7 linked regions of the Homo sapiens genome follow. The protein of the gene in region 1 interacts with the protein of each later gene in a pairwise test. Each region holds a gene or a part of one and is shown in the gene's direction. Other genes may lie near its edges. The genes, in order: AQP2, FAM3C, TMEM218, SLC38A7, LEUTX, TMEM97 and MS4A13.

The links.
Region 2: the proteins of AQP2 (region 1) and FAM3C interact in binary tests that used the Homo sapiens proteins (3 or more experiments, as listed by UniProt).
Region 3: the proteins of AQP2 (region 1) and TMEM218 interact in binary tests that used the Homo sapiens proteins (3 or more experiments, as listed by UniProt).
Region 4: the proteins of AQP2 (region 1) and SLC38A7 interact in binary tests that used the Homo sapiens proteins (3 or more experiments, as listed by UniProt).
Region 5: the proteins of AQP2 (region 1) and LEUTX interact in binary tests that used the Homo sapiens proteins (3 or more experiments, as listed by UniProt).
Region 6: the proteins of AQP2 (region 1) and TMEM97 interact in binary tests that used the Homo sapiens proteins (3 or more experiments, as listed by UniProt).
Region 7: the proteins of AQP2 (region 1) and MS4A13 interact in binary tests that used the Homo sapiens proteins (3 or more experiments, as listed by UniProt).

Annotation. Positions count from the first base shown.
Region 1 is NC_000012.12:49,948,615-49,953,767, forward strand, and holds the start of AQP2 (aquaporin-2), read left to right. Parts: upstream 1-2,122; 5' UTR 2,123-2,216; coding exon 2,217-2,576; intron 2,577-2,897; exon of another isoform or gene 2,898-3,055; intron 3,056-3,304; exon of another isoform or gene 3,305-3,474; intron 3,475-5,153. UniProt on the Homo sapiens protein: Forms a water-specific channel that provides the plasma membranes of renal collecting duct with high permeability to water, thereby permitting water to move in the direction of an osmotic gradient. Plays an essential role in renal water homeostasis.
Region 2 is NC_000007.14:121,347,698-121,351,712, reverse strand, and holds the end of FAM3C (protein FAM3C precursor), read left to right. Parts: intron 1-443; coding exon 444-570; intron 571-1,162; coding exon 1,163-1,252; 3' UTR 1,253-2,835; downstream 2,836-4,015. UniProt on the Homo sapiens protein: May be involved in retinal laminar formation. Promotes epithelial to mesenchymal transition.
Region 3 is NC_000011.10:125,101,242-125,105,825, reverse strand, and holds part of TMEM218 (transmembrane protein 218), read left to right. Parts: intron 1-3,016; 5' UTR 3,017-3,092; exon of another isoform or gene 3,093-3,160; coding exon of another isoform or gene 3,161-3,189; intron 3,190-3,474; exon of another isoform or gene 3,475-3,508; coding exon of another isoform or gene 3,509-3,584; coding exon 3,585-3,694; intron 3,695-4,304; coding exon of another isoform or gene 4,305-4,382; intron 4,383-4,522; coding exon 4,523-4,584. UniProt on the Homo sapiens protein: May be involved in ciliary biogenesis or function.
Region 4 is NC_000016.10:58,674,419-58,679,002, reverse strand, and holds part of SLC38A7 (sodium-coupled neutral amino acid transporter 7), read left to right. Parts: intron 1-108; coding exon 109-307; intron 308-528; coding exon 529-670; intron 671-1,578; coding exon 1,579-1,677; intron 1,678-2,656; coding exon 2,657-2,714; intron 2,715-2,881; coding exon of another isoform or gene 2,882-2,927; exon of another isoform or gene 2,928-2,948; coding exon 2,949-3,063; intron 3,064-3,279; coding exon of another isoform or gene 3,280-3,389; exon of another isoform or gene 3,390-3,469; intron 3,470-3,660; coding exon of another isoform or gene 3,661-3,689; exon of another isoform or gene 3,690-3,753; intron 3,754-4,584. UniProt on the Homo sapiens protein: Symporter that selectively cotransports sodium ions and amino acids, such as L-glutamine and L-asparagine from the lysosome into the cytoplasm and may participates in mTORC1 activation. The transport activity requires an acidic lysosomal lumen.
Region 5 is NC_000019.10:39,783,820-39,787,372, forward strand, and holds the end of LEUTX (paired-like homeodomain transcription factor LEUTX), read left to right. Parts: intron 1-707; coding exon 708-859; intron 860-1,878; coding exon 1,879-2,316; 3' UTR 2,317-2,472; downstream 2,473-3,553.
Region 6 is NC_000017.11:28,321,502-28,326,078, forward strand, and holds part of TMEM97 (sigma intracellular receptor 2), read left to right. Parts: intron 1-4,001; coding exon 4,002-4,146; intron 4,147-4,577. UniProt on the Homo sapiens protein: Sigma-2 receptor which contributes to ameliorate dysfunctional cellular processes and slow degenerative progression by regulating cell functions including cholesterol biosynthesis/trafficking, membrane trafficking, autophagy, lipid membrane-bound protein trafficking, and receptor stabilization at the cell surface.
Region 7 is NC_000011.10:60,521,326-60,525,909, forward strand, and holds part of MS4A13 (membrane-spanning 4-domains subfamily A member 13), read left to right. Parts: intron 1-2,571; coding exon 2,572-2,628; intron 2,629-3,881; coding exon 3,882-4,001; intron 4,002-4,584. UniProt on the Homo sapiens protein: May be involved in signal transduction as a component of a multimeric receptor complex.

The DNA of each region.
Region 1 (5,153 bases):
ACTCAGGAAGCTGAGGCGACAGAATTGCTTGAACCTGGGAGGTGGAAGTTGCAGTGAGCTGAGCCACTGCACTCCAGCAGTGGGGAAGGCATGTTCCCTGGGTGGGGGCAGAGGCACACCCCAGCCAGACCCCTCTGAGTCCTTGTCTCTTCCTATGTGCAGAGTCTGGAGGTGGGCCCCAGATGCCCTTTATATGACAGGGGTTGGGGTCCCCCTCTCCGTCGATCTTCTCCCGGAGGACCCAGAATGCCTGAAGTTGGGAGGGATGGCTGAGGGAAGAGTGCCAGGGCACCAGGTGTCTATGTGTCAGGCCAGGAGTTAGGCACTGGAAATACACAGGAGAACAAACCCCACAGGAATCCCTGCTCTTTTGGAACATCACTTCTGTATGGGTAATTTTTATTCTTTCTTCCTCCCCTTCCTCTTCCGCTTTCTCTTCCTCCTCCTTCATAATAGCAGGAGTCACGAGTCCCCATATATATATGTATATGATACATTCTCAGTTGCAAAATACCTTCCCGTTCATTATCTTACTGCATTCTCAAAACAACTTTATGGGGTAGGCATCCACACTCCCATTGTCCAGACAAGGAAACTGAGGCGCAGAATGTGGCTCGGTAGTGTGGGGTGTGGCAGAAAGCTCCAGACCAGGCTCCAGTCCCAGCTCAGCCACTAACCTGCTGGAGCACCCTAGATAAGTCACTCCCCTCCCTGGGCCTATACTCACCCCTCCTGCCCACCCCACATCCCCATGATACAACACAAAGCGCTCCACTCCAGTCTCCAATCTCTCCCAGATTTCTGTTCCTGCGACTGTGACTTGCCCAGGGACCTGCTGGACAGGAGCTAGGGCAGGGTGCAGAAGCCCGTCCTTCTGTCCCCACTCTGAGCCTGACCCTGCTGTGAATCCCCAGGAGAGGGAGCGAGGCTGGAGGGATTAGGGAAGGGCCAGTGAGTGGGGCTGGGGAAACTTCTAGACTTGAACGCCTCCAGGACCCCAGTGGCCACAGCAGCACTGATAGCAGGAGGCAGCACTGCCCAGATGCTGAGCTGAGTGGGCACCAAGGCCAGAGAGCTGCTTATCAGGCATCACAGCCGCCCCGAGCCTGCACAGCTCACTGCCCCACAGAAATGTCTTTCTCCTGTGGCCAGAGCGGCCCTGAGCTCCTCAGGGTTTCTAGGACCTGTCACAGCTTCTGGGACCCCAACAAATGAGTGTGCAAAGACCTGTTCTCCTCAAAGTGCAAATAATACTGTAAGTAAGGGCTGATATTCATTGACCACCTACTGTGGACGAGGCGCTGCTCTGAGCACTTGACATACATTGTTTCATTCAATCCAAACCCCAATCCACTAGGTCAGTTTTATTCTCCCCATTTTACAGAGAAAGACAAGAAAGGTTAAGTCACATAGATGGAACAGGCTGATGCCAGAATGGACACCCTCAGCTTCCTCAGCCGCCCCAGGTTGACTCCATCACCAAGGGCCAGGGTCCCAGTGCCCCCAGGCTCTAGGAGCTGCTGTTTGGCTGGGGCTCCCAGGAGAAGGTGAAGCTTAATGATTTATGGGTGATTAGCTGCAAGAATGCAAGCACAGAAGACACAAACCTTTATGCCTTGGAAATTTGTCACAAGCCAACCAGTTGTTTTCCATCCCTGTGAAGCAGGAATAATTGGAGGTCTGACAGAAGAACTTCCCAGTTACCAGAAGGAGCAGCACTCATGTTCTCTCTTAGTTTTGTGTGAGGTGTTGCCCCTGCCTTGGTCAACAGTTTGAGTCAGAGAGATGGGGGCCGGGCACAATCCCCACCAGACGTTCCCATTCACAAGACCCTGTGGGGGCTGGGAGACGCCCTGGGGCAGCAGCCCTGGGGTAACCAAGGGAACAAACACGGAAAACCAGGGACGTCAGTCCTTATCTGGAGCTCATTAAATGGGGAACATTAGTCAGCTGTGAAGGCCAAGATAGGGTGATAGGCCTGTGGGTGGGCTGGGATGGGGCATGGGGGCAGAGGCCGCCATGGAGGAGAAGAGGTATTGGCCTCAACGACTCCACCTCCCCGCCACGTGCCCAGATCCGGGATGGAAGGACCCTATAAATGCCCACAACCCAGCCTCCCCAGAGGCCTTGAGAAAGAGAGCGATAGAGTGCGAGAGCGAGTGCCCGGAGCATCCTGGCCCTGAGACAGCTGGGCCAGCCCCGCAGGGCTCTGCAGCATGTGGGAGCTCCGCTCCATAGCCTTCTCCAGGGCTGTGTTCGCAGAGTTCCTGGCCACACTCCTCTTCGTCTTCTTTGGCCTCGGCTCTGCCCTCAACTGGCCACAGGCCCTGCCCTCTGTGCTACAGATTGCCATGGCGTTTGGCTTGGGTATTGGCACCCTGGTACAGGCTCTGGGCCACATAAGCGGGGCCCACATCAACCCTGCCGTGACTGTGGCCTGCCTGGTGGGCTGCCACGTCTCCGTTCTCCGAGCCGCCTTCTACGTGGCTGCCCAGCTGCTGGGGGCTGTGGCCGGAGCCGCTCTGCTCCATGAGATCACGCCAGCAGACATCCGCGGGGACCTGGCTGTCAATGCTGTGAGTAGCCACAACTTTGCCATCCACAAGGGGCAGGTCCTGGGGAATCCCTTGTAAAGGATGAGATGGGAGGGATGGGCTCTGGGTGATGTAGGGAGAGAGATGGAGACAGAGGCAGAGAGAGAGGCTGGAGCCAGGAACACAGCCACCATAGGAGGGTCAGGATGAAAGGAGCAATGATACCAGAGCAAAGCAGGATGCAGACAGACTGCTGGCTTCTTCCACCCTGACCGTCGTGCAGGAAGAGCCTCATCCAGGTTTCTGTTGGACTCAACGCCTACATTACAGTGAAGACAGGGCTATACCTCAGCAGGGGTTGGTGTCCCGAGCAGACATGCTTTCCAAGCTGCGGGGAGCCTTGGAGTGATCATCACAGGGTTCTCAAGAGAGAAGAGGGGCCCAGCATTTCTTCTGCTTTGAGGGTTTGCAGGTCCCGTGGCAGGTGCTCCTTACAGGCCAGGCACGGACACACCACAGCCCTGCAAGCAGCAATGGGCATACTCACTTCTCCAAACCTTGAGGAGGTCCCCGGAGCCCATAAGCTGGCTGCTGATTACATGATACAGGCGCTAACTGGGCCCCGTGGGCCCTTTGGGAGCTGAGGGTGGTGCCACAGTCCCTTCCCCCATGTCCCACCCACTTCCCCTCTCAAGTCTGTGTGGGCCCTGTGAATCCAAGGCCCATGAATGTGGAGGAATGACCTGTGCCCCCAACAGATCAACACTCACTCTGTACCCCCATCCTAAGCCAGGACAGTGAGTGCCTCTTTTGTGCTTGTTTCCGGTAGTTCCCGGCCTTTTCCATCCTTGAGCCACTGGACAAGAGTCCTGATGTCTTTGATGAGTCCCGCACAATCTCTGTGGGCGCCCCCTTCTCTGCACAAGTGGCCCTTCCTCATCTGTGGGACAGAGGTATCCCAATTAGGGAACTTCTCTGCTTTGTTTTGTTTTGTTTTTGAGATGGAGTCTCACTCTATTGCCCAGGCTGGAGTGCAATGGTACAATCTCAACTCACTGCAACCTCCACCTCAGGCCATTCTCTTGCCTCAGCCTCCCATGGGATTACACGCCTGTAATCCCAGCTAATTTTTGTATTTTTAGTAGAGACAGGACTCGCCACGTTGGTAAGGCTGGTTTCAAACTCCTAACCTCAAGTGATCCACCCGCCTCAGCCTCCCAAAGTGCTGGAATTACAGGCATGAGCCACCACACCCAGCCTCTGTTCTTTAAAGAGGAAAATATGACAAGGCTGGGGGCCAGGGGCCAAGGAAAGGCTAGGTGGGCAAGCAGAGGAGTGGGCTCATTTCCTCTGAGAACAAAATTAGTTCAGTTTGCAGCAAGAAGAGGTCCAGTTAGACTGAAAAAGGAACTTCCTGAGAGCATGACCAGGAAGTCCTTCTCTAATAGCAGGGCACTGGGAGTGAAAGGCCATGGGAAACATGCAGTCCTCCTCCTCCATCATTTCACAACTGACTGGGGCCCTCAGAAGAGAAAGGTCTGGGAGGGCTCCTCCATGCCACTTCTCAGCATTTACCACCTTGAGGACCTGGGGAGAACCCTGCCTGGATGGAATGGGGCAGTGGTGGGACCAACTTGCTCTGAGGCTAAGGAGAGCCAGATGACCCTCAAGACAATCCCAAGTGTCCTTTGAGGACACTGAGAGCCAGCCTGGCCACCAGGAAGTTAATCATTGACATGCACCTGCCCTGTGCCAGGCCAGCTATCATCTCATCATTGGTACAACGCTATAAGGGAAATTCTGTGGTTCCCCCTATGGTGAGTGGCAAATTGAGGCTCAACAGCAATTGATCAAAGTCACAGAACCAATATGTCATTTCTAGTCCTCCCACAGTCCTCCAGAATCCATTTTCTTATCCCATTTCACAGAAGGAGAAACTGAGGCCAAATTAAGTAGTCCCATGGCAAGTCAGAGGCCTCCAAAGTGTCTGCTTCCAAAGCTCTTTTCACTGTCCTCTAGAGACTCTGCATTGGACAACAATAGGAGGGATTGAGGTTAGACCCTAGAGAGACCCAAGGGTTCTGACCTGATGTCTCGGACCCAGGGGTGGGGGTTCAGGGCCTGGAGAAAGAGCGTGGGAGCTGAGAGCTGTCACTGTTCCACCCAGTGCAGTGCCCAGCCCCAGAAGGCAGGGTGTAGGGTACAGGGTGACAAAACCCAAGGAGAAATCCAGTGCTGGGTGCGGCCCAGTTATGAAATCACCTCTTTACTCAGCCCCGAGTTCTCTCCTTACCCAAGGCAGGGTCTGCTGAGACCATGGGCAGCCTACATGGGTGTGGAGGCATTGTCCAACACAGCTCCAGGGCCCTTACCCCAACCTCCATAGGATGTGCAGGGAGCAAACTAACAGGGCAAACCTGAGGCCTGAAAGGCAGTGGGGAATAGACAAGGGTTAGGGAAAGAGGTAGATTCCGGACTCATAGCGGAAAGGGGCACACTAGGACTGTCCCCCAGACCCAAGTCCCTAGACCCTGTCTCTGGGAGCCATTTAACCTCAGGAAGAAAGACCACAGGCCTCTCATTGCACCAAGGTCTGATGGTCTACAGACAGAGGAAGGT
Region 2 (4,015 bases), on another chromosome or scaffold:
ACAGATTTTTGTCAGCATTTACCTTTATTCTGGTCAAATGTAATTTACAGAGGGTTTAGTGGAGATTCAAAAAGATTAATTTTATAAAAATATTGATTGCTTAAGACCTTGGATAGCCTGGATAGGCATCTACTAACTGTGGTATCCCTTATTTATTTGATGAGTGTAATTTAAAAAGTTAAATGAAGGTGAATTGTTGTGAAATAAAAACCTAACAGGTCCTTTTAATAGAATAAACTTAAAATTAATTGTTGGAGTTCATGTCTTTTGTCACTAAAGAATTCAACCAGTAGAAATGTAACTCTGAAAAAAAATTATTTTCCAAAATGTTCTGTTATTTAAAGTCTCATTTTGTCTCATGTTTTGTGTTAATATCCCAGTGAACCAGTATTAGCATACAGTTCCCTCTGTTTATTGTTGTATTCTTTCTCTCCCTCTTCAAGACTCAATGATGAGGCACGGCGGCTCATTGCTGATTTGGGGAGCACATCTATTACTAATCTTGGTTTTAGAGACAACTGGGTCTTCTGTGGTGGGAAGGGCATTAAGACAAAAAGCCCTTTTGAACAGGTTAGTGTCATAGACTCTCAGAATTAACAAAAACAAATTCTGTGAAACCTTACGGTACATTTTCCCATCCCAGCTATTTGAAAATTAGATAAAGCGGATAGTAAATATGATCATATATTTGTCATAAATTCTTGGTAATCAGTTATTTGAAATAACTATCGTACTTTTAAATTTCAAAACTTGAAAATTCTGCATGGGAATATTTTTTCCTACAGGACAATGCATTGGAATAGGATTACCTATCTTAAGCCTTTTCGGAAGCTTTAGTTATTAAGGATTTTAATTGAGCTTTGGATTTTAGAATCAGTGAAGTTTGGAAATATTTTAGAACTTAGTAGAATGTAAATGTTAGTTTTTGAGTAGCAAATAATCCTTTAAAAGCACGTGCAATGTATTCTTTCAGCTGTTATTTGAAGGTCTGCCATGTATGTGATACAGCCTGAGGGTCACTCATTTAATATCTTGACCAGTAATTTAAATGAACTTATTGTTGACATGAGTATTACTGAAATGAGAAGTGTGTAAAATGTTACGGCAAATCAGCAGTTTACAACGGTTTTTTAAACTGTATATTATTACTGTGTTCCAATAGCACATAAAGAACAATAAGGATACAAACAAATATGAAGGATGGCCTGAAGTTGTAGAAATGGAAGGATGCATCCCCCAGAAGCAAGACTAATGGAAATGTGGAGAGAATTGAAGAAAGCGCACTTTCACTCTTAATGGGAGAGCTATAAATGGCAGAGCTATGTGTAAATATTTTAAGAGCATGCAGCCATCTTGGTGTGTGCATGAGTATTGTCTCTTTTGATATCAGGATTATTTATTGCTAACGTAAATAGATAGCATTGTAAATAATCATCACAATGATCAAATCACTGAACCATGTCTCCGCACATTTCCCTAAAAGTACAATGTTTAGACTGCTATGGTAATACATATTTTAAATTCTAAAAGCATACACAATGTGTAACTGAATGGTTTGTGAAAAATATATTGATATATATACTAGTTGCTATGAAAATATCATGGAATAATAGGGATTTTAGGGTGGATACTTTATTTTCTTTTATGTTTCTATATGTTGCGTTGTGATGACATTATCTTTTAAATTAAAAAGAGATTTGGCTAGTTGTGTGTGTAATGTTACTTTACAGTCCGACTCTCCTGATGTACCTCTTTTCATGATCTTTTTCTTTCCTTCCCAAGAAACTGAGGAATGTTTAATATGAAAACATACATCGGATATGTGAAAAGCACAACAAAATTCTTAATGTACACAGTAAAAAAGTAAATATATAAATGTAGATGGCATTTAGGACCACAGCTTGCTGGATTTGTGTTAGCTATGGGAATAACTTGATTTTGTATAAGCTATTTAGAGTGAGGCTGGAGGTGGCAGCTTCACAGAACTGGAGAACCAGGCCAAGTCCCCTCCCCAACCTAATTAGGTCATTCAGGACAGCTAAGTCAGTATATTTAGAGCAATACTAGCATACGTTTTTCTTAATTGTTATCAGCATTGACCAAGTGGTTTGGAAGGAGGCATGCTTTAATATCACAATAATTTTGATTTGTAAACCAAGAAATTAATCCTGTGTTTATCTAACTTCATAATAGCAATTATTGCCCGAAGCTATAGTGGCATATTTACAAAAGTTCTTATTACTGGGCGGACTGATAACATTTAAAAAATAATTGTGTTTGACCCCAAATGACTTTATACCCAATTCTACATAAAAATATAGAAGATCTATCTTTTTTTGTTACCTTCAGATGTTCACTAAATAACTCAGTTTTTAAGCAGAAGTTTTCAGGGCATTAAATATATGTTGTGTATGAAGTATCTCAAACTGGAACATAAATTTAGTGATCAAACTGCCATTCACAGTGTAAGGCAGCACTTAAATTTCGAACCTAAAGTTTAGATGCATTGTATAAAAAAACCTAAAAGCAGTATCTGTTATTTAGCTGTAAACCAAGTTGGAAGCTATTCGGATAATTTCTTAAATATTGATGAACTTTGGAGTACTGTTTCTTCCTTCAAACTGAATGTAATTAATTCATGAATAAATGCACCTTATATGTTTAAACAATCTTTGTATACTTTTGGGATTTTTGGTGCTTATATGCTAAATCACATTCAGCATGTGTATTTTGACATTTAAAATACTTCCCTCAATTCTGTAAATTAAAAGAATAGTTATTTTACAGTTCCAGGGATTGTGAAATAAATGTTGCAGTTTTTTAAAATAATGAAAATAAATACTCTTGGTTTTGCTTTGTGAATTTTTTTTTTTTTTTGTATTATCTGGCAAAGTAATATACCTACAGAACTTCACAAAAACTCACACAAGGTTTTTCAAGCATTTATTATACTGCCTAACTTGGAAAAAAAATTGTTGCTGTGGTTAAAAATAGTAATATCCTAGATGTGTCTTAACATGTAAGAAGCTAAGTATCTAGATGGCGGAAAAAGCCCTTTTATTAAGACTGTAAAAGGATAGCTTTTCCAGATATATAAAATGTTAAAAGAAGACAAAGATTGGTTATGTTAACTGGTGTGGTTTCCTTTTGTCTCAGTTCAATCTTGTATAGATTGTGCCAACTTAACTTTGAAAGCAATAACTTTATACTACATTTTCAGATACCTCTTTAAAATCGGTTTTAGACATGAAACAGTGCTCATTTAATATTAAGAATGTTCTTTATTAAAATCAAATTAACATTGACATAGTATTTGAAATGGTGCTTATGGGCTTATCGATGCATATTTTTTATTTGTAATCCGATGCTGTCCCAGAATAAGTGTATTGTAATGTGAATGTTAAAATTGAACAAGAGAAAGCAGGAAAATAAGTGGTATTTGGGAAATTAAAGGAAGATTGAACCAGAGTCTTTATATTCCTGAATTTAATTGGATTAATGGGAAATTTATCATTGTTCTTTCTATATTGGACTTGTTTTTAAGTGAATCAGCTATGTTATAATTTTATGACAGATCAAAGCTGAGTTCATTTAGCCTGTTGCACTTTATACTTTAAAAATTTACATAAATTTTAAATAACTTGACCAAAAAAGTTATAATTTCATTCAGTTTGGTCAACAAACTCTCCCTTAATTGAATGCAAAATGTGCCATGTTCAGTTAGTAGAGCAATTAAAAGTGGAAATTCATTTAGAATACTTTGTTTCAAAGGAATATGAGAGAGATAAATTACTTGTGTTGATTAGGGAGATTTGTCACTTAAACCTCTTCAATTATTTCAACCTCTTGTACAGCAATAAATCCATGTAAATTTAGAGCTATAGAATAAAATAACAGATTGCACCTTTGCATTCCTCAAAAGGATTTTCTGTCTCTTTTCAGAATGATTTTTCTACCACATACTTGATTTTTGATTATCACATGCTGTAACTAGTTAATTTCTATTTCCATCCAA
Region 3 (4,584 bases), on another chromosome or scaffold:
GCCACCCACCTCACACCCACTGACCCTTGCCCCACTTTCTGTTTTCTTTATTTTTTTTTCACTTTACTAGTATAGAAGCTATTTTTTCTATTTCTGTTGCTTGCTGTTTACCTGTATGTTTTTTTAACTTGTGTACTTAGCTTAAAAAACATATACCTCCTCCAAAACAAAATCACTGTAGAATGCTTTAACTTTGAACTATCCTTTTCCATCTACCATATAACTGTTGAGTAATATTTAGTCCTTTCTGATTTTTAACCCCTCAAAAATTGTCATTATTACAGAAATCTTTACTGTCAATATTTCTTAATAATTTTCTCACCATGCTTCCTGTATCTCATACCTCCTTTCTTGGTTCATTTTCCTTCTTGCTGAAGTATGTCTCTGAGTAGCCCTTTCACTGAGGATCCTTGAGAGGTGTACTACATTTCACCCTTTGTATGTCTGAAAACATCTTTGTTTTACACTTACTCTTGAGGGAGTCTTGCATGCCAGCCTGTGGGTTTAGTTTTGTCTCTGCTGGGATCCAATGGGTTCTCACTTTTAGTCTAGTTTTCATGTTAATCTTTCTATTTGGGATTCCCATATCACATCGGTAGTATTGAATCTCACACATGGATATGATGTGAGGTGGGGATTCAGATTTCTCTTGGGCTGTTGTTTTTTGACCTGTGGCCTGAAGCACTCAGCCAGCTTCCTTCCAACTAAGTCAGTAGCAAATTATTTAGACCCTATTTCAAAAACTGGTCAATCCTGTGAGGGCCCAGCTTTCTGCATTGTTCTCATTGCTAGTTCTTTGCCATCGTGGGCTTGAGACCTTATCTGCCCTGAAGAGAATCACCCTGAAGGTCTGTATCAGGCACCAGGACCCTCGTAGACTTTTAGGCTCAGCTCAGGCCTTGAGTTACATTTTTTTATAGCACTTAATGATTTTTCTTTATTGCTTTCGAGCTCTGCTGTGTACTAAATTCTTCTTGTTCTATTTTATTGAACATTTATGTGTTTGCTGTTGTATGAGGCACTTCCCTTGTTAACTTCCATCCAGCATATTGACCAGAGGTTACAGTCATCTTTCTAAAACTCCATATGATCCTTTCACTCCCTCACCTGATGTTTGTGGACTTGTTAGCACTGTGTCATTTATTCCTCCCACAGATACTTGTTGTGCATAATCTCTGTGCTAAGAACTGGGGTTACCACAGTGAGAAAGATATCAGGTCTCTGCCTTCGTGGAGTTTACTATTCTAGTTGGACAGACAGAAAATAAACTTGTAAACAAATAAATGAAAATATTAACTAGTTTTGTGAAAAATGCTCTGAAGGAAATAGAGTGATGGAGAGTCAGTGTTTGAGGGGTTACTTTAGAGAAGACACTCGGGGAAGACCTCACTGAAGAGTGACATTTAAGCAGAAATCAGAAGGCTGAGGAAAGCCAGTCCTACAAATAGTAGCAGGAGTGCTTGGGGTTGAGGGCTAGTTCCAGGCAGTGGAAACAGCAAGTACAAAGACCCAGAGATGGGGAAACCCCGGGCGTGTTAGAGTGACCGAGATGGCGCCCATGTGGCCCTAATGAGGGCAGACTGCTCCCCAGAGAAGTTAGGCATGCAGGTGGGCCCCAGGTCCCATCTCCCCTCACTCTGTCATCTTTTCACTCTGATTCTTTCCTAAATGTGCCTGTGCAGAGTATTTCCTTTGTAAAGCCCCTCTCACTATTGCAGTTCCCACTGCACTTCGCTTTTACCATTAATCAGAATGTAATATGGACACTTGTTTTCAGGACAATGTTCTCCAATAGACCTTGAGCTTCTGTCAGAAGATATCTTATTCACCTTTGGCATCCCCAGCTTGTAGCGCAGTGCTTTACATGGTGGGAACATCATAAATGTTGATTCAATAAACGTATTTTTTTTACCAGTTCATGCTTAGACCCTCCTTTCCAATAACTTTATAACTTCTCATAGCTAATATTTTCGTGGTATTTAAACCATAAGGGTAAAGAAAACCAGCAACCTAGAGGAATGTGTTTGCTTAAGACTTGTCTCCAATGCTGAAAAGGAAAACCAGGAGAGGTAGTGTGGTGTGCTGTTCCTCTGCTGTGAGTTGAATGGTGGTCCCCAAAAATATATGTCCGCATCCTCACCCCTGGAATCTGTGACCATGACCTTGTTTGACAAAAGGGTCTTTGCAGATTTAATTAAGTTAAGCATCTCAAGATAATACTAGATTATTTGTACAGACCCTAAATCCAATGACAAGTACCGTTATAAGAGACAGAAAATGTGAAGACAGACACAGGAGAATGCCATGGGAAGATGGAGGCAGAGACTGGAGTTGTGAGTTAAAAGCCAGTGAATGGTGCCTGGAGCTACCAGAAGATGGAAGAGGCAGGGAAAGATTCTCCCCTAGAGCACTGATCCCCAATCTTTTTGGTACCAGGGACTGGTTTCATGGAAGACAGTTTTTCCACAGGGGGATGCAGGGGGGTGGTTTCCGGATGAAACTGTTCCACCTCAGATCTTCAGGCATTAGATTCTCATAAGGAGCCTGCAACCTAGATGCTTCGCACGTGCAGTCCACACTAGGGTTCGTGCTCCTGTGAGAACCTAATGCCGCTGCCACTGATAGGACAGGAGGCGAAGCTCAGGTGGTAAGGCTGGCTTGCCTGCTGCTCACCTCCTCCTGTGCGGCCCAGTTCCTAAAAGGCCATGGACCAGTACCAGTCCATGGCCCAGGGGTTGGGGACCCCTGCCCTAGAGCCTTTGGAGGGAGCACAGCCCTGCTGACACCTTTATTTTGGATTGCTGGCCTGTGAGAAAATAAATTTCTATTTTGAGCTGCTAATTAGGAAACTAATAGATACCCCATCGCGCTTATATCTCACTTACCCATCCTGTAACATGGCTATAGTAATACCTTTCTCAGAAGCTTCGCTCCGGGATTCAATGAGATATGTTTGTACGGCACTTAGCACACAGTGAATGTTCAAAAATAGTGATGGCTGTTCCTCTTCTTTAAGGACTGGGAGTTTTCATCCTCTTGAATAAGAACTCGACAACAGAGTGGGAACTTTCTGTCTTGTGATCCATTGCCTGGTGAGTCACAGCTCACACCATGGATTTAACCTGAGAGCTTCAACTTCTGCTTTGGCCCTGGAGTTCCCATGCCCTGGTGTCTTCTACCAGTTCTTAGGTAGGGTTTTATATTCAGAGAGGGTTCAGCTTTCTCCCGTGGGCTGGGGGAAGAGGTCAAAGTAGAACTCAGGTACCAAATTTGAAAGGAAACACTCAGAAAAAACTTCTGAGCGCAGAGCGGAAAACACCCTCTCAGTCCCCACCAAAGAGAAAGGCTTTGGGTTCTAAATTTCCAGTTTCCATTAAGGGACTCTGGGACTGGACATTTCTGAAAATTAATGACCTGTACTGAGTAATCCTCCTAACACACTGATCATCAAAAAATAACCTGTAATGAGTTTAGGCTTTCTGTATTTGTCTGAATGCTTTCACGGGAGTGTGTTGCACTGGAGCACAGAGGACACTCGATCGTGCGGCGCGCAGGGCGGGGGGCCGCCGCTGCCTCCCCGCGGGATGGCTGGCACTGTGCTCGGAGTCGGTGCGGGCGTGTTCATCTTAGCCCTGCTCTGGGTGGCAGTGCTGCTGCTGTGTGTGCTGCTGTCCAGAGCCTCCGGGGCGGCGAGGTAAGGCATTCTGTCCAACTGGGAGTCCTAGGTAAAGCAATTAGAGGCAAAATCGCTGATGCTCACTAAACATTTAGAATTTAAGAGATCAGTTTTGTAATTACTGGCAGTTTGAATGAGTTGCATTTTAACCTCTTTTTATAAACACTAACTGTGTTATTTATGCTCTGGAGCAGAGATGGGAGGAGAAGGAAGTAGTGTTCTTGAGTTCTAACTGTGGCAAGAAACTCTGCTTTCACTGCTTATTGAGTTTCTTGAGGCTGTATGTGTATGTGTTTATGAATTGTTCAGATTTATGGCAGAGGCTTGGTCCAGTACCCGAGGCTCTAGCCCTGGACCCAGGAAAACGAAAGCAACATTTGATGAGTTGGGCCTGCTTTCTATATCAGGCATTGCCTTCAGAACAGGGTTAGGCCATAAACCGACTCTGAAAACACTAGAGTTGCACTCTGGCAAGACAGTGTTAGTATGAAGCAGAGAGTTGTAGAATTTTCTAAAGTATTCTGTTCTAAAAACAACAGAAGTGGAGGTGGAGAGGGGATGCTTTGGTTTTTCTTGATTATGACTTTGGGCAGAAGTAAAAATAAAAACTACACATTTCCATTCTTAGGAATTGGGAATTACCAAGAATAAATGGGAATGCACCCAGCTGGTACCTGTCTAGGAAGAAGGACTTTGGGATGAAGAGGTTGTTGACAGCAGGCCTCTGGACATTGTTAAGGGACTGAAACATAGAATATTGGCTCCAAGGAAGAGACTGTCCAGACCTAACTGATCAAAGAAGAAATTATAGACAGTGCTTTTAATAATTTGTCTTTTTAACCCCAGGTTCTCTGTCATTTTTTTATTCTTCGGTGCTGTGATCATCACATCAGTTCTGTTGCTTTTCC
Region 4 (4,584 bases), on another chromosome or scaffold:
ATTTGCCAAGCTTGCTTTGGGCACTGGCCCAGTAAATGCTAGGCGAGCCCAGGGTGCCCTCTGCTGCCAGGCCTTTGCCACAAGCTCTTGTTCTGCCTCTGCCTGCAGGGTATGCTGGTTTTCATCATCAGTGGCCTTGTCATCCTGGCCTACTGCTCCCAGGCCAGCAATGAGAGGACCTACCAGGAGGTGGTATGGGCTGTGTGTGGCAAGCTGACAGGTGTGCTATGTGAGGTGGCCATCGCTGTCTACACCTTTGGCACCTGCATTGCCTTCCTAATCATCATTGGCGACCAGCAGGACAAGAGTGAGCTTCTCCCTCAGTCCCTACCCCATCTCTTCTTATCAGCCCCAGGGATCCTGGGGTGGAGGGAAAAGGCACTGAACACCTCTCCAGGACTTACCTGGGCCCAGCATTCATCTGGGAATCCTCCCTCCAGGCAGAGGGAGGTCCTGGGGCCCAGCAGAGCAGGAGGGCCACACCCCATGGTGGCCTGGCTTGACATTCCCTCCTTCCTCCCTGTGCAGTTATAGCTGTGATGGCGAAAGAGCCGGAGGGGGCCAGCGGCCCTTGGTACACAGACCGCAAGTTCACCATCAGCCTCACTGCCTTCCTCTTCATCCTGCCCCTCTCCATCCCCAGGGAGATTGGTTTCCAGAAATATGCCAGGTTTGGAGGCCCCAGCCTGGGTCAGACAGAAGCTATGATCCTGGGCAGCTGTAGACCCAAGGGCTCCTGGGGAACCCTGCTCCTCCATGCCACCTCACCTTGGGGAGCAAGAGTAGGCAAGGCAGGGCAGACCGGGGCTTGCAGGGTTTCAGATAAGACCATCCTTTTCTGTCTCCATCATAGAAAAAGGATGCATCCATGAGAGATTCAGTTCTAAATGTCCTTTTGCATCCATGAGTAGTTCAGTTCTAAGTGCCCTTGTCAAAGAAGGAACAGGTGGTATCTGGGCGGTGAAGGCAGCCTCCTGGCATTCCCTGGGAGGAATTTGGGTCTTTGAGACTGTCAGCCTACCAGCATCTTACCTGCAGCTTGGCATGAAGGAAGGAGACTGGTTTCCTGTCTCGGTGTCTGAAAGGCTGTGGGATTCTAGGCTTCCCCGTCTGTAAGTGCAGGGGCCATGCTCCGCTCTCTCCAAGGCTCCCATAAATGTTGACACAAAAGTGTCTGTACTCTCAACCCTCTTACCTCTGGCATCTCTTAGTTCTCAAAGGCCAGGCTCAGAGGATGGTCTCCCACAGCCCCTGCCCGGGCTGGGCTGCTCTGATTCAAGTCCCAGGTGTGCTTTGGAGCTCTGCTCTCTGCATCGTCTCTGAGCCATGGAGCTGAACCAGCACTTCCTGATGGCCAGGAATGCTGATCAGGTCCCCTGTTGGCTGTCCAGCTCCTTCCTAGCTGTGGCAGGTTTCTCTGAAACTACTTCTCAGGCGTTTCCTGAGTCTGCTTGGCATAGTCTCCGGTTCATTCAGTGGACACTTGTGGTCGCTAGAGCTGAAGGTGGATGTCCCTAGGGGTGGAATCAGATAAGAGGCAGCTGGGGATGAGGACACTTAGTCTCTCCTTCCCGGCAGCTTCCTGAGCGTCGTGGGTACCTGGTACGTCACAGCCATCGTTATCATCAAGTACATCTGGCCAGATAAAGAGATGACCCCAGGGAACATCCTGACCAGGTGAGGGTGAGGGCCCTAGGAGACATGGGGAAGAAGCCACCACTTGGGCCCCAGCAGGTGCTGGGTCAGGAACCAGAAGGCCACACAGGTGCTCTTCTCAAGGCTCATGAGCTCATCAGGGCTGACTTGGTCATTGTAGGAAGGAGGAAAGAGCCCCTGCTCTGATGTTACTGGAAGGAAGAGCAAGAATCAGAGACAGGAGGCACTTTGCCACCTACATCCAACAGATGAGCCAGTGTGAGGCTAGGCCTTGGGTTGTGGAGGAACCTGAGGGTGGAATCCCAGGGTCGAATTGCCTGTGTTTCCAGCATCTGCTTATCTGTAATTTCTGTATCTTTGAGGGTGAATTTATTATTAAAAAAAAAGGGGGGGGGCCAGGCACAATGGCTCACGCCTGTAATCCCAGCACATTGGGAGGCCGAGGCGGGCGGATCATGAGGTCAGGAGATTGAGACCATCCTGGCTAACACGGTGAAACCCCGTCTCTACTTAAAAAATACAAAAAAATTAGCCGGGTGTGGTGGCAGGCGCCTGTAGTAGCAGCTACTCGGGAGGCTGAGGCAGGAGAATGGCGTGAACCTGGGAGGCAGAAGTTGCAGTGAGCCGAGATCGCGCCACTGCACTCCAGCCTGGGTGACAGAGCAAGACTCCATCTCAAAAAAATACAAAACAAAACAAAACAAAAAAAACAATTTCCTTCTTTTGAAAGGAACAAACCAGTAAAGCAAAAGCCCCAGTCCAGGAGCCAGGAATTCTGGATTTTGGCCCCAGGGGGGCTTTTCTGAACCTCCAGGCCCCATCCCAGAGGGCCCTGGGACATAAGGATGCCTCTTCTCCCTGTTCCCAGACTTCTGTGGGTTGAAGCTATGGAATCCCAGTTGCTGGAGACCATGGTGGGCTGACCGAAGAGTGAGGGCGTGGGGTGGGTTGTGGCTCTGAGGGGTTCCCAGGTGGCAGCACCATGTGTGTTTGTTCACAGGCCGGCTTCCTGGATGGCTGTGTTCAATGCCATGCCCACCATCTGCTTCGGATTTCAGGTGCCAGTGCCAGTTGCAAGGTCCCTGCTGTCCCCTTAGATCACCCCACCCTGGGATGGAACCCAGCAAGGAGGAGGAACCCAGGCAGAATGGAGGAAATCCTGGGGGGAAGGATGGAACAGGGGCCTCAGGACTTGCCCCTTGTTCCTGGGGTCTTTGTTCCCAAGGTACCTTCCTCTGGAAACTGGGGTTGAGGTCATTTCCCCACCATGACGGTGCCCTTCACCTGGACAGTGCCACGTCAGCAGTGTGCCCGTCTTCAACAGCATGCAGCAGCCTGAAGTGAAGACCTGGGGTGGAGTGGTGACAGCTGCCATGGTCATAGCCCTCGCTGTCTACATGGGGACAGGTGAGTGCTCCCCCCCCCCAAGACCTGGGACTAGAGTGCTCTCACTTCCACAGGAGTCCCTAGGTCCTGGGGCCTAGCTTTCCTGGGGACAGCCCTGCATTCCCAGCATGACTTGTATAGGCATTGGCTTGAACTTGGCCTGCCTGGAGCCTCCTCCTGCCAAGATGAGAGTGGTGTATTCATCCATTCATTCACCAGTTCTAACTTGGTGCCTAGGAAGTGCCAGGAACGGTTCTCAGCATGGGGGATGCCATGGAGAGAGACAGAACTGGTCTTGCCCTCATGGAGTTGACATTCTTGTTGGAGAGACAGTCATGCAGGAGTAACTGGGGAATCAGTAAGGAATTCCAGATGGTGGCAAGCATCCTGATGACAGTGAAATAGGGAAGGTGTGTTTTGTTTTATTCTATTTTATTTTGTTTTGAGAAAGGGTCTCAGAAACTGTCGCCCAGGCTGGAGTGCAGTGGCATGATGATAGCTCACTGCAACCTCAACCTGCTGAGGTCGAGTGATCCTCCTGCCTCAGCCTCCAGAGTAGCTGGGACTACAGCCATGTGCCATTGTGCCCAGCTAATTTTTTTTTTTTTTTTTTTCTAGCAGAGACAAGGTCTCACTATGTTGCCTAGCCTGGTCTTGAATTCCTGGGCTCAAGCAATTCTCCTGCCTCGGCCTCCCAAAGTGCTGGGGTTACAGGCATGAGCCACCAACCCAGCCTAAAATGGGGAAGGTATGAATGGGACTGGATGGGTGGCTTTGGGAGTGGTTCACAGAAGGTTCTTCTCAGAGAAGGCCCAAATGATGAGAAAGAGCCAGAAGAGGAGGAGCTGGGGAAGAAGGGTTCCAGGCAGAGGAACCACAAAACACCAAATCACTGAGGCAGGGCCAGGAAGAAAGTCTATGTGGCTGGAGTGGTGTGTGATGGGGGCAGGTGAAGGCAGTGAGGCCAGACAGGCACTGGCAGCCAGATCCTGTTGGGCCTCGAGGGCTGCTGGGAGTCATCGAGGAAGTGTTTTAAGCAGGGGGGTGGTTCGGGGAAAGGTGGCTCTGGCTGCCGTGTGGAGAGTGGTTGGGGTGAGGGAGCAAGTCTAGGAGACCCTGGAAGAAGGATCCCCTGAGTTCTTTCCACGGATAGACCGTAGGAGCTGCCTGGGCCAATACTGTTCTAGCCTCTGAATACACAGCCAGGAACAAGAGAGGCAAACAGCCAAATCCCTATTCTCCTGGGGCTCATGTCCTGGCTGGGGAGACAGAAAATAAGCCTGTAAAAATTAATTACTATTATTATTGTTATTATTTTTATTTGTATTATTGTTTACTTAAAGACCAGTGTGATAGTACAGTTAAAAAAAAATTAGAAAGCGATGAGGCCAGTCACAGTGGCTCACACCTATAATCTCAGCTATGGGAGGCCAAGGTGGGAGGTTCTCTGGAGCCCAGGAGTTCAAGACAGGCTGGGCAACATGGTGAAACTCCATCTCTACAAAAAATTTAAAAATTAGCCAGGTTATGGTAACATGCACC
Region 5 (3,553 bases), on another chromosome or scaffold:
TTGATGGAATTGTTTGGTTTTTTTCTTGCTAATTTGTTTGAGTTCGTTGCAGATTCTGGATATTAGTCATTTGTCAAATGTATAGATTGTGAAGATTTTCTTCTAGACTGTGGGTTGTCTAGAACTCTGCTGTTCCTTTTGCCATGCAAAATCTCTTTAGTTTAATAAAGTCCTAGCTATTTATCTTTGTTTTTATTGCATTTGCTTTTGGGTTCTTGGTCATTGTGTTGCTGTCTATCTCATTTCTTAGGTCTAGTGGATAAAAGGGCGTCCATTGTCTCCTAAAGTTTTTATTATTTTTTATTTATGCTCTCTATTTCACTGAAGATTTCTCCCCTCATTTCTTGTATCTTTTTTTTTAATTTCCTTAAATTGGGCTTCACTTTTCTCTGGTGCCTCCTTGATTAGCTTAATAACTGACCTTCAGAATTCTTTTTCAGGTATATCACGGATTTCTTCTTGGTTTGGATCCATTGCTGATGAACTAATGTGATTTTTTGGGGATGTTAAAGAACCTTGTGTTGTCATATTACCAGATTTGGTTTTCTGGTTCCTTCTCATTTGTGTAGGCTCTGTCAGAGGGACGGTCTAGGGCTCAAGGCTGTTGTTCAGATTCTTTTGTCCCACAGGTGTTCCCTTGATGTAGTACTCTCCTCATTTCCTTCCGAATTTTTTTAATGAAAGCCTTTTATCTGTTCCCTCTGCAGAAGGGCCAAGGCGTTATCGTCGGCCACGCACAAGATTTCTCTCCAAACAACTCACAGCATTGAGAGAATTGCTTGAAAAGACCATGCACCCAAGTTTGGCTACAATGGGGAAACTGGCTTCAAAGCTACAACTTGATCTATCCGTAGTAAAGGTCTGTTCCCAAGTGTGTCTGTAGGTAGCACGCCTAACCCAGAGCTTCACACACACTTTTGATCATTGTTATAACAGTTCCTATTTATTGGCAATTGCTATGTGTAAGGACAGATGTTAAGCACTTTATATTTTTATTGTCATGAGCACCCACTTTATTGAGGAACACTAAAGCTCACATAGAAGAGCTGTCTTCCAAGCATTATAAACACAAGAGTTGGAATTTGAACCCAGACCTTTCCAACTCCAGACCCACCATGCTACACAGGACTCTTTGAGGCTGGATCTCAGATACTCCCATTTGGGTCTGTTCTTGTGTATTCAGGATGGGTTCTGCTTAATCAGGACCATCACAGTCATCCAGATGCCTGTCACTAAGTTCCCACAAAGTATTCATGGGAGAACACCTGGATGAACCCTAAAGATGACCCAAGCTAAACTCTCACCCCATACTCTGACTTTAAAATACTTTCTCTGGGCACCAGGAATGGTGGCTCACACTTGTAATCCCAGCACTTTGGGAGGTGGAGGCAGGAGGATCGCTTAAGCCCAGTTTAAGACCAGCCTGGGCAACATAGCAAGACCATGTCTTTACAAACAAAAATTAAAAATTAACCAGACATGGAGGCACATGGCTGTAGTCCCAGCTACTTGGGAGACTGAGATAGGAGGATTGCTTAAGCCCAGGAGTTCAAGGCTGCAGCGAGCTATGATTGCAGCACTGCACTCCAGGCTGGGTGACAGAGTGGTAGCTTGTCTCAAAAAAAAAAAATACACCACTAATAAAAACACCCTTCTATTTAATACATCACAATCTAGGTCATATTCCACCCATTGCTAGTACAATCCTACACCCACTTTTCCCTTGAAACCCAGGACAGCAGAGAGTAGAAAGGGCTTCCCTTGTTCCAATAAATGTGAGACTCTCTCTCACACCAAAAAACCGAATTCCTGAGGAACATGAGGATGCCCCTTTATACTCAACATCCATTATTAACCTCCCCCCTCCTCCCTCCTTAGATCTGGTTCAAGAACCAGCGTGCCAAATGGAAGAGGCAGCAGCGGCAGCAAATGCAGACACGGCCATCACTAGGGCCAGCAAACCAGACAACTTCAGTGAAGAAGGAGGAGACTCCCTCAGCCATAACTACTGCAAACATTCGTCCAGTAAGTCCTGGAATCTCTGATGCAAATGACCATGATCTACGTGAGCCTTCTGGTATCAAGAATCCTGGAGGAGCCAGCGCCTCTGCGAGGGTTTCATCCTGGGATTCTCAGTCATATGACATTGAACAGATATGTCTGGGGGCTTCAAATCCTCCTTGGGCCTCCACTCTCTTTGAAATAGATGAATTTGTAAAGATCTATGACTTGCCAGGGGAAGATGACACCAGCAGCCTAAATCAATATCTTTTTCCAGTATGCCTTGAGTATGACCAGCTCCAATCTTCAGTGTAACTTCTTACACATCACTTCTAGGGGAGGTCTGGATCTGACCCACTGAGACATATTTCCACACATCTTTAATGGTTTGACCCCAGTCTAAGTAGATCAGGGGCTGGGAATTTATCTTTTTCTGTAGAAAAAACAATAAAGGAACTCCCCTACCTTTCATCATTGCCTGCATTTTCTGAACTCCATTTGAGTGCCTCCTCACCCAAATTTCAGCATTAAAGATTGTATTCAGAGAAGTGACGCCAGGAACACAGTGACATAGGAGGTTCCTGATTGATGGACTGAATAAACGTCTGTGCCTACATCAGTTCTCTCTGGAAGAAAGTCAGAAGTGAGTGGAGAGACTCCTACACACCAGGCAACTAAGAAAATGTCTTAGCAGGCCAGTCGCGGTGGCTCACGCCTGTAATTCCAGCACTTTGGGAGGCCAAGGTGGGTGGATCACGAGGTCAGGAGATCAAGACCATCCCGGCTAACATGGTGAAACGCTGTCTCTACTAAAAATACAAAAAATTAGCTGGGTGTGGTGGTGGGCACCTGTAGTCCCAGCTGCTTGGGAGGCTGAGGCAAGAGAATTGCTTGAACCCGGGAGGCGGAGGTTGCGTGAGCCAAGATTGCACCACTGCACTCCAGCCTGGGCGACAGAGTAAGACTCCATCTCAAAAAAAAAAAAAAAGAAAAGGAAGAAAAGACAAGAAAAAAAATGTCTTATCAAACAGGCAGCAAAAGCTGAAGCACTCAGAAACACTAAACCCACCCTGGGCACTGAGCCATACAATCAGGAAGGAATCCCCAGTTCCCAGCTTCTCCCCCAGGAGAGAAGCAGTGAACCACACATATAGCACCCTAACAGTTGATGGTTAAGTTCCTAACGAGCCTGCATCAGGGAGTTGACTAGGTAGGTAAACTACAGACTTACAAGAGCCTGAACAGAAGCTAGGTGCCACCCAAAGCTTCACCCCAGCTCAGCCCAGCAATAAATCCAGGTCTATCAATTCCTCCTGGAAGAAGTTTGTCCACACATTGAGCACCCCAACTTTTATACCTGCACTCAAGGGACTGCATCCTAAATCCCCTAGCTCTGGAAATGGAAGGGATTAGGCATATGTGAGTCTCCCTAGCTCACAGAGAAAAAGGTGGTTTTAAGCAGGCACACAAGCACTTCAGGGCTAGCCTTCCTCCACCACACTCCCCCAACCAGAGCAGTGCAGAGAAGGGGTCAAAATGTACAGCTCCCAGT
Region 6 (4,577 bases), on another chromosome or scaffold:
GTCATGGCTTACCACAGCCTTGAACCTGAGCACAAGAGATCCTCCCACCTGTCTCCTGAGTAGCTAGGACTATAGGTGCACACCACCACACCTGGCTAATTTTTTATTTTTTGTAGAGATGATGTCTTACTGTGTTACCCAGGCTGGTCTTCTGGGCTCAAGCCATCCTCCTGCCTCGGGCTCCCAAAGTGCTGAGATTACAGGTGTGACCCACCGTGCCCAGCGTCAGCTTTATTTTTTTAATGCTGACTTACTGCAGAAGGCCCAAGGGCCAGTGCAGGCAGCATCTGGCCAGAACCTGTGTGTGTGTGTGTGTGTGTGTGTGTGTGTGTGTGTGTGTGTTTGTGTGAGATTTAGGCATTAGCACGGGCATCCTGGGTGTGTGTGTATCTGTGTGTGTGATGATGTTTGAAGGCATTAGCTCGGTGGCATCCTGGCATGGAAGGTCTGTGCCTCCATTCTTGTTGCTTTGGTGTAGGAAATGCTGATTTTGTTGCTTCTCTATGGGGCAAATAATAATAAACGCCTTGAGTTATTCTCATATTCTCTTTGAAAAATGCCAAAATTTAACATCTGTCATTTTCTTCCTGAAATAGAAGGAATGTTTCCCTAGAGTTAAAAAACCTGTAGGAGATCACCTAGTGGTTGGGCTGAAACATGCACAATAAATTTTTTTTCTTGGATTGCACCAAATCACTGCTTGGAAAAACTCATTTTTTTATTTACTTTTTGTTTTTCTTTCTTTTTTTTTTTTGATTTTGTTTTTGAGACAGTCTCTTGTCGCCCAGGCTGTAGTGCAGTGGTGCAATCTCGGCTCACTGCAACCTCTGCCTCTCGGGTTCAAGCAATTCTCCTGCCTCAGCATCCCAAATAGCTGGGATTACAGGTGCTTGCCACAACGCCTGGCTAATTTTTATATTTTGTTATAGATGGTGTTTCACCATGTTGGCCAGGCTGGTCTCAAACTCCTGACCTCAAGCGATCTGCATGCCTCAGCCTCCCAAAGTGCTGGGATTACAGGTGTGAACCACCACGCCTGGCCTGGAAAAACTCTTATTTTATTATGAAACAGTAAGAATTTAGTTTGGATAAGAACATGGTAAGGAGAGGATGGGAAGCATTTTGTAGTATCATTTGCAGCTGGGTAACATTGCTTCTGGTAAAAATAAGGAAAAACAAGTGAGCATCTGGCTCTGAAATCAGTCTGTGTTCCCATTCTAAATTATAGAAGTACAAGATTGGTGAGTAGCAACCACTGGTTTAGAGATCGTGCGTGCAGGCCAGGTGAATCTTTTATGTATAACAAGGGTGGGTTGAGTCAAATAGAGTCAGGTATAAGTGGAAACAGTTTCATTACCTTTGGTAGGGAGGCCATAACTAATAATTTTTAATGACCAGTCGTGAGCTGCGATTTTAATGGGATTAAACTTGAATATCTCCAAATATGTATTAATTACATTCAATTAATCATTATGTGCTAGCCATTATTTTAAAGACTACATGTATTAAGTCACTCTCTTACCAATAGTGAAGTAGGCACTATTACTGGCTCTATTTTATTGATGGGGACACAAGTGTAGGGAGATTAAAGGCCTTGCCTAAAGCCAGGCACTCTACCCCAGGTCCTACACGCCTCACCCATCTGCCAGGTGCCTGGGCTTTCTACTCTCCTACTCACAATTAGTCCCAGCCTCATTCTGGCATCAGGTGGCAGGTATATGACTGTGGGCAGATGGTTGGTTACGATTATGATAATTCATTATTACGACATCTGGGTGATTGTTTTTTAAATTTTGCTGATCTCATCTTGTAGGCCTTAGAAATTAAAGTGCTGTACAAGTCTGCCTCAGTTTATGAAATAGTTGGATCAGAGAGGTTGTAAACAAATTGAATAGAAAGTGAAGTTCAAATGGCCAGAATGCCTTTTTTTTTTTTTAATTTTTTTTTGAGATGGAGTCTCGCTCTGTCACCCAGGCCGGAGTGCAGTGGCTCGATCTCGGCTCACTGCAACCTCAGCCTCCAGAGTTGCTAGGATTACAGGCGTGAGCCACCACACCCAGCTAATTTTTGTATTTTTAGTAGAGACGAGGTTTCACCATGTTGGCCAGGCTGGTCTCAAACTCCTGACCTCAGGTGATCCACCCGCCTTGACCTCCCAAAGTGCTGGGATTATAGGCATGAGCCACCGGGCCTGGCCCAGAATGCCTCTTAAATTTTGCAGTCAGGCCGGGTGCAGTGGCTCACACCTGTAATCCCAGCACTTTGGGAGGCTGAAGCGAGGATCGCTTGTGCCCAGGAGTTCGAAACCAGCCTGGGCAATGTGGCAAAACCCCGTCTCTACAGAAAATTAGCTGGGCTTGGTGGCGCATACCTGTAGTCCCAGCTACTGGGGAAGCTGAGGTGACAGAATCATCTGAGCCCGGGATGTTGAGGCTGCAGTGGGCCGAGATCAAATCACCACACTCCACCAGCCTGGGCAACAGAGACTGTCTCAAAAAAAATAATAATAATTTTATAGTCAATCTTTTAAAGCAGGTAGTGTCATCCAGTATTTTTAAAAATCTAAAAAGCAAAAAAGGGATCTTAAGAAAACATCTAGTCCAAGTTGCTCATTTTACAGATGAGGAAGTAGAACCCTGGAGAGGGACAGTGACTTAGCCTTTGTGTTTCTTATCAATTCAATCCTATTCAAACCACATTCCCATCCAGAAAAGTGCTTAGAAGGAAGCGAAGGGCATTGCTATGAATTTCAATTTCAAATTAAGTACAAATTTGGATATCCTTTGGTCAATAAATTGGTTATCTAGCCAAAGCCTTTCTGAAATTAATAATATGCTAACAGGATATTTGTTTCTGGATGTTTGCTTAAAGTGCTCTTGCAGCAGTGGGGCTTCTATTTCACAATAGCGAGGCTTTATCTTTTGATTAAAAATTAACAGGAAAAATATTCTTGGATTTTCCATTGTAAGTAAGATAAATTCTTACCCTGGAGTTGCCTTTATTAATCATAATATCAAGACTTATTTGTCTTTGAAGGCCTGTGTGTCAGGGCAGCGCCACATCTAGGAGGTTAAATGTGACAAACGTTTAGTAGTCCACATAGAGCCAAGAGCACTAGGCTTTGGGCTCCTATAAAAGCCCAAGATGGGAAGCCTTAAACTCTGCTTCTTTTCTCTGCCTGTAGCCAGGTCAGCATGGATCCGCATCCTTTTTATTTGACAAGGTAATTACAAGCGTGGGGCCCAAGCTAGAACTGAGACGCTAAAACCCTGCATAACCAAGAAGCTACTAGGTAGTTTGTAGTTTGGGGCAGAGTTTGTTCTTCCACTAAAATCCTGTCTCCTAAAATAAACCAAAAATTAGAATTAGGGGAGTTAAGGAACTTGTTTGTCATATTGGAATTAAAGTGTCCAAAATTACATCGCCACAGAGGTTAGATTTACTTCCCCTTTCACTCCCACCCCCACCCCGCAAAAAGAAGAGGGAAATTCAATTCATTTCTGCATTTGAGGGAATCTGGCCTTTGGAGGAGTTTGGTGTGTAGTTGCCATTACAAAAGGGAAAGTGTCAGGATGGTTTTCATGTGTATTTGTTTTTTTAAACAAAGAATGATATTGTTGACAGAAATGTCACATTTGTTCATTCAGCGAACACCCTGAGTGCCTACCAAGTGCCAGATACTTATTGTTGCTCCTGACAGTGGCCAACACACCTGGATGTGTTATCTTGGAATTATGAACAGATTCTGGGTAACACAAAGAAGGGGCTGGAAGAGTTGAGAAAATTTCAGAGAAGGGAACATTTGAGTTAGGGATAGTAAGTTTTTATTAAATGACCACCTAGGCTGTGTCACAAAAGCCAGCTGGACATGCCATCTGCTGCCGGGGTAGTGGGGGGTGGCTAATTAATGACAGGCTCCTCCAGTGTATTTTCAAATGAGCTAGCGCCGAGCCTGTTGAGGGCAAGTGGCTGTAATTCATCATGATCGTTTTCTTTTTCAGTTTAGAAACCTGCTGAAGTGGTATGCTAAGGAGTTCAAAGACCCACTGCTACAGGAGCCCCCAGCCTGGTTTAAGTCCTTTCTGTTTTGCGAGCTTGTGTTTCAGCTGCCTTTCTTTCCCATTGCAACGTATGCCTTCCTCAAAGGTTGGTAAATGGTGGGAAAATCCCATTTTTACTCAGAAATCAGGTCCCAGAAATCTTTTGGGAAAGTATCTCCAAAGGGAAGGGGATGGTCCCCATAGTTTGTGGGAGAATGCTACAGGATCTGGGGTAAATAGCCAGGGTAGATCTTGTAAAGGGACATTAGTGTGGCTCAGGCTCATGTCTGTGGTCAGCAGGCCTGCACGGCTGCCTCAGTCGTCTGGAAATCCCTTGCATACACATGAAGCCTGAGACCACTTAAACAATGAGCTTGTTCCCTTTTGTTTTGTTCCCCAACAGAATTAATTTCTCTTTTTGTTGGCTTTTATTTCTCTGCGTTGGATAGTATCATACTGACTTATAAGCTGTAGCATCAGGCTAATCCCTAATGTGCTTCTCATTTTAAAATTATTCTTAGTGTTCTCATATAATCA
Region 7 (4,584 bases), on another chromosome or scaffold:
ATGGGTTTTTCTTTTCTATCACATTGTCAGGCTGTAAATTTTTTTGAACTTTTATGCTGTGCTTGCCTTATAAAACTGAATGCCTTTAACAGCATCCAAGTCACCTCTTGAAAGGTTTGCTGCTTAGATCATTTCTTCTGCCAGATATCTTAAATCATCTCTCTCAAGTTCAAAGTTCCACAAATCTCTAGGGAAAAATGCCACCAGTCTCTTTGCTAAAACATAACAAGAGTCACCTTGCTCTAATTCCCAACAAATTCCTCATCTTCCATCTGAGACCACCTCAGCCTTGATTTCATTTTTCATATCATTATTGGCATTTTGGTCAAAGCCATCTGACAAGTCTCTAGGGAGTTCCAAACTTTCCCACATTTTCCTGTCTTCTTCTAAGTCCTCCAAACTGTCCTAACATCTGCCTGTTACCCAGTTCCAAAGTCACTTCCAAATTTTTGGGTATCTTTTCAGCAGCACCCCACTCCTGGTGCCAATTTATTGTAATAGTCCATTTTTATGCTGCTAATAAAGACATACCTGAGACTGGGCAATTTACAAAAGATAGAGGTTTGTTGGACTTACAGTTTCTCATGGCTGGGAAGGCCTCACAATTGTGGCAGAAGGCAAGGAGGAGCAAGTCACATCTTACATGAATGGCAGCAGGCAAAGAGAGAGGGCTTGTGCAGGGAAACTCCCATTTTTAAAACCATCAGATCTCATAGGACTTATTCACTATCACAAGAACAGCATGGGAAGGACCCGCTCCCATGATTCAATTATCTCCCACTGGGTCCCGCCCACAACACATGGGAATTATGGAAGCTACAAGATGAGATTTGGGTGGGGACACAGAGCCAAACCATATCAAAAGATCAGACAGATAGATAGATAGATAGATAGATAGATAGATAGATAGATAGATGTATATATATAGATATATACACACATATATATGTATGTGTGTGTTTGTGTGTGTGTGTAAAAATCACCAAATATTAAGTGATGTTGGAGAGAGAATCAGAGAGTCAAAATTTCAATTCATTCGAAAAGAGGAATGGCCAAGGGGTCAATAGATTACTTAAACCATGAAGGATAGTGAGTTATAGAAACTGACATGTGATTCAAAGGTGGAGGAGAAAGAATGGTTGGATAGCAATAATGAGCAAGGAAACCACTTATCCCACACTTCGAACAGATGGAATGAGGGCTGTAGGATACAATATGGCTGCCCATTGAGACAGCAATTAATCACTAGAAGAAACAATGATCTCTAGGAGGTCTCCCACTTTTATACATACACTAATTCATAAGTGTCAATGGATTGCCTTGAAAAAATAGGAGAAAAATATTGAATTTTTGCACAAAATCCAGATAAATGATACATGGTTCATAAAAGATGAATGGCTCATAAATAATGCACTGGTTCATAGGTGATAAATGATAAATGATGCACTGGGTCACAAGTGTCAAAGCACTACCTTAAAAAAGAGGAGAAAAACTGTGGATTTTCCAACAAAATCCAAATAAATGATGCATTTTCCTTAGTGTTTGACCACTCATATTATAAAAATAGTATATTAAACTCCTAGGATAACTTATCTAAAATTTCAACTAAATGTAATTTAATACTAAACTTCTCACTTAAGCCTAAACTTTGAAAGGCATTTTGTAAAACACATAGTAATCGAAAGATAATCTCATTAGAGAGCACTCTAATTCAAAATTCACAAGATATTTTCACTTTAAATTCTGAGCTAGTTCTTACGTTCACTGTGTACCTCCTTAGAAATCTCAGCTTTTGTTGTGGAATGAAGTGCTGAACAAATAGATTTAAAATTATCCATGGGAAGTTTGTAAGCTTCAGGTTTGGGCTTCCTACATATAGTGTATAGCATGACAAAAATAGCCTTTGACTTGGATCTTTAGTGTCTTATCAATAAAACAAATAAGGAATACTTTGAGGAAATTGTGCAACCCATCTTCAAACAATATGGCATAGTTTTATACTTCTTGGAAGTAGACAGACTTCCTGACATGAAATAATGGAACCTCTGTTTTAAAAAACAAAGGCAAAGGCATGAATTTCTGCCATTACCTTAATAATGACTACAATCTCATAAAAGAGACTGCATATTTTGTACCATCACAATATGGAATAGATTCTTGAACCACTTTTTCCATATTTGGATATGTACATAGTAATCATAAGTAGTGTCATCATCTCATTAGGAAGGATAACATTAAAAGCAATAATCAAATGAGTTATATATGATGTATCTCATACACATAAAAGCAAACTTGGTTCCCGGTCAGGACTGCTTAGGCTGTCTGGCATATTATCACAGTGTGAATCTGCCCACTGTCCCCTATGTGTCTCTGTTATGAGTGACTCTACTATTACCTTTCAATGTATTACTACATGATGTAAATTTGTCCTGACCCATCTACTAAAACTTCTGTATATTTTGTTACTATTAGCATTCTTAAAATAATTGACTTACAAGAGAGTTATTAAAAGTACATTCTAAATTGGCAAGCATTATCAATGAGTATTTATAAATATGTTTTTATATCCAGTTTATCATTGCAGGAGTCTTCCTAATAAGAGTAACAAAGTATCCGACTCGATCTGGAGTAAGTTGAAATGTTTGAGGTATCTCTAGAAATCACTTATCACAAAGCTAAATATTAAGTTTTAATGAAAATATAACGTCTAAACAATGAAGGAATCTACCCTACCTGTAAAGTAAATGAAAGAATTAAGAATGAATCTAGAAGAACATAATTTAATATAGACAAATATACTGTATTGGTTAAAATCATGATTACTTTATGTATAGGTTTCTAAATGTATATATAGTTTTTGTTTTGTTTGATGTTCTGCCTTTTAACATTGTGTAAACTTTATAATTAAAAAATTTTAATAGGACCTAATGCCTTTAGATATAGACATTATACTACTGTAAAACTTCATTTTCTGAACTATCCAGTTTGGGAACAAGATTGTGTCCTGTAACAAAGTACAGAATTGGTCCAGATTAAAGATCCATGCATGGTATAGGTGGATAGAATTGGGAAGAACACTTTAGAATCTTAGAGCTAAAACGTACCTTAGAAATTAGTCTGCCCTCATAATTTTACAGATAAAAAAATGATGTCTGAAGATACTGATAGATTTCCTTAGATAATGAAAACCCAGGATTAAAATTTTATCAACTGACTCCTATTTCTACAAGCAGTCATTTTCCACTTTTTTTTTTTTCTTACAGTGGAACCACTTTTGTCCAAATCATATCTTATATGCTTTCTTCCAAATGACCTATAACATTGAAAAACACAATACTTTTTTTTTTTTTTTTTTGAGATGGAGTCTCTCTCTCTCACCCAGGCTGGAGTGCAGTGGCACAATCTCGGCTCACTGCAAGCTCTGCCTCCTGGGTTTACACCATTCTGCCTCAGCCTCCCAAGTAGCTGGGCCTACAGGTGCCCGCCACCAAGCCCGGCTAATTTTTTTGTATTTTTACTAGAGATGGGGTTTCACCGTGTTAGCCAGGATGGTCTCGATCTCCTGACCTCGTGATCCACCCGTCTCGGCCTCCCAAAGTGCTGGGATTACAGGCGTGAGCCACTGCGCCCGGCCCCAAAAAATACAATATGTTTTAGCCTAAATGGAAGATTAATGATTAATGGACTGATGGTGTTAATGTTTCCTCCAGATTAACTGGGCTTCATATAAATCAGAAAAATATTTTCTTAATATTTAATACTTCTAAGACTTCAGAAACTAGATCAAAGTTTTAACTAGATGAGTTTTTTCAGCAATGCAAACTATTACACCAAAATGTTTATTCTGAATATAATAAATTTGCCCTCTGTCTCCTTTTCAGATTATAAGTACTTTAATCATAAACATCATCTGCATAATTACTACAATTACTGCAGTAACTCTAACAATAATAGAGTTGTCTCATTTTAATTCTGTGTCATACAGGAATTATGGACAAGCAGTAAGTGACCAATTCTATGGGAACATATTAATTTTAAAATTATTCTTTTTAATAATTTTGAAATCTTAGGAGGTAAGATGAGGCTTTTATTCGTCCTCATGAAATTCTTTGATTTAGTTGTGAGCTCTTGATTGAAAATTTTAAATCAAAAATAATTCTAGGCTGTGAGTTTTAGTAAATATTAAGAGAATGTTTGAATTCTTGACTTGCTGAATTAAAGTGAGTAAAAATTTGAAAGCTTCAGTGGCAAGTGTCTATGTATTAGGCACAGAGCCACTTAATGATTCTCTTAATACAAGAAAAGTATAATCCTGGACAATAAAACCATTTTGCAAATAAACAAAAGAATTCTGCTACTGACACATATGGTTCAAATTGTAGACACCTAGTAATTTCTGGCTTAACATAGAATTTTTCATACATAGCCTATCTTTGCATCTTACATAAATTTTGCTTTAAGGCCAAAAATGCTAAATATAAATAAACCTAACTTGTTTCCATTTAGTTGCCCAGTAAATGTGAAGATTTTTACTGATAACACAATAGTTTTATTTTAATTATATTGGCTTTAAATTCAGAATCA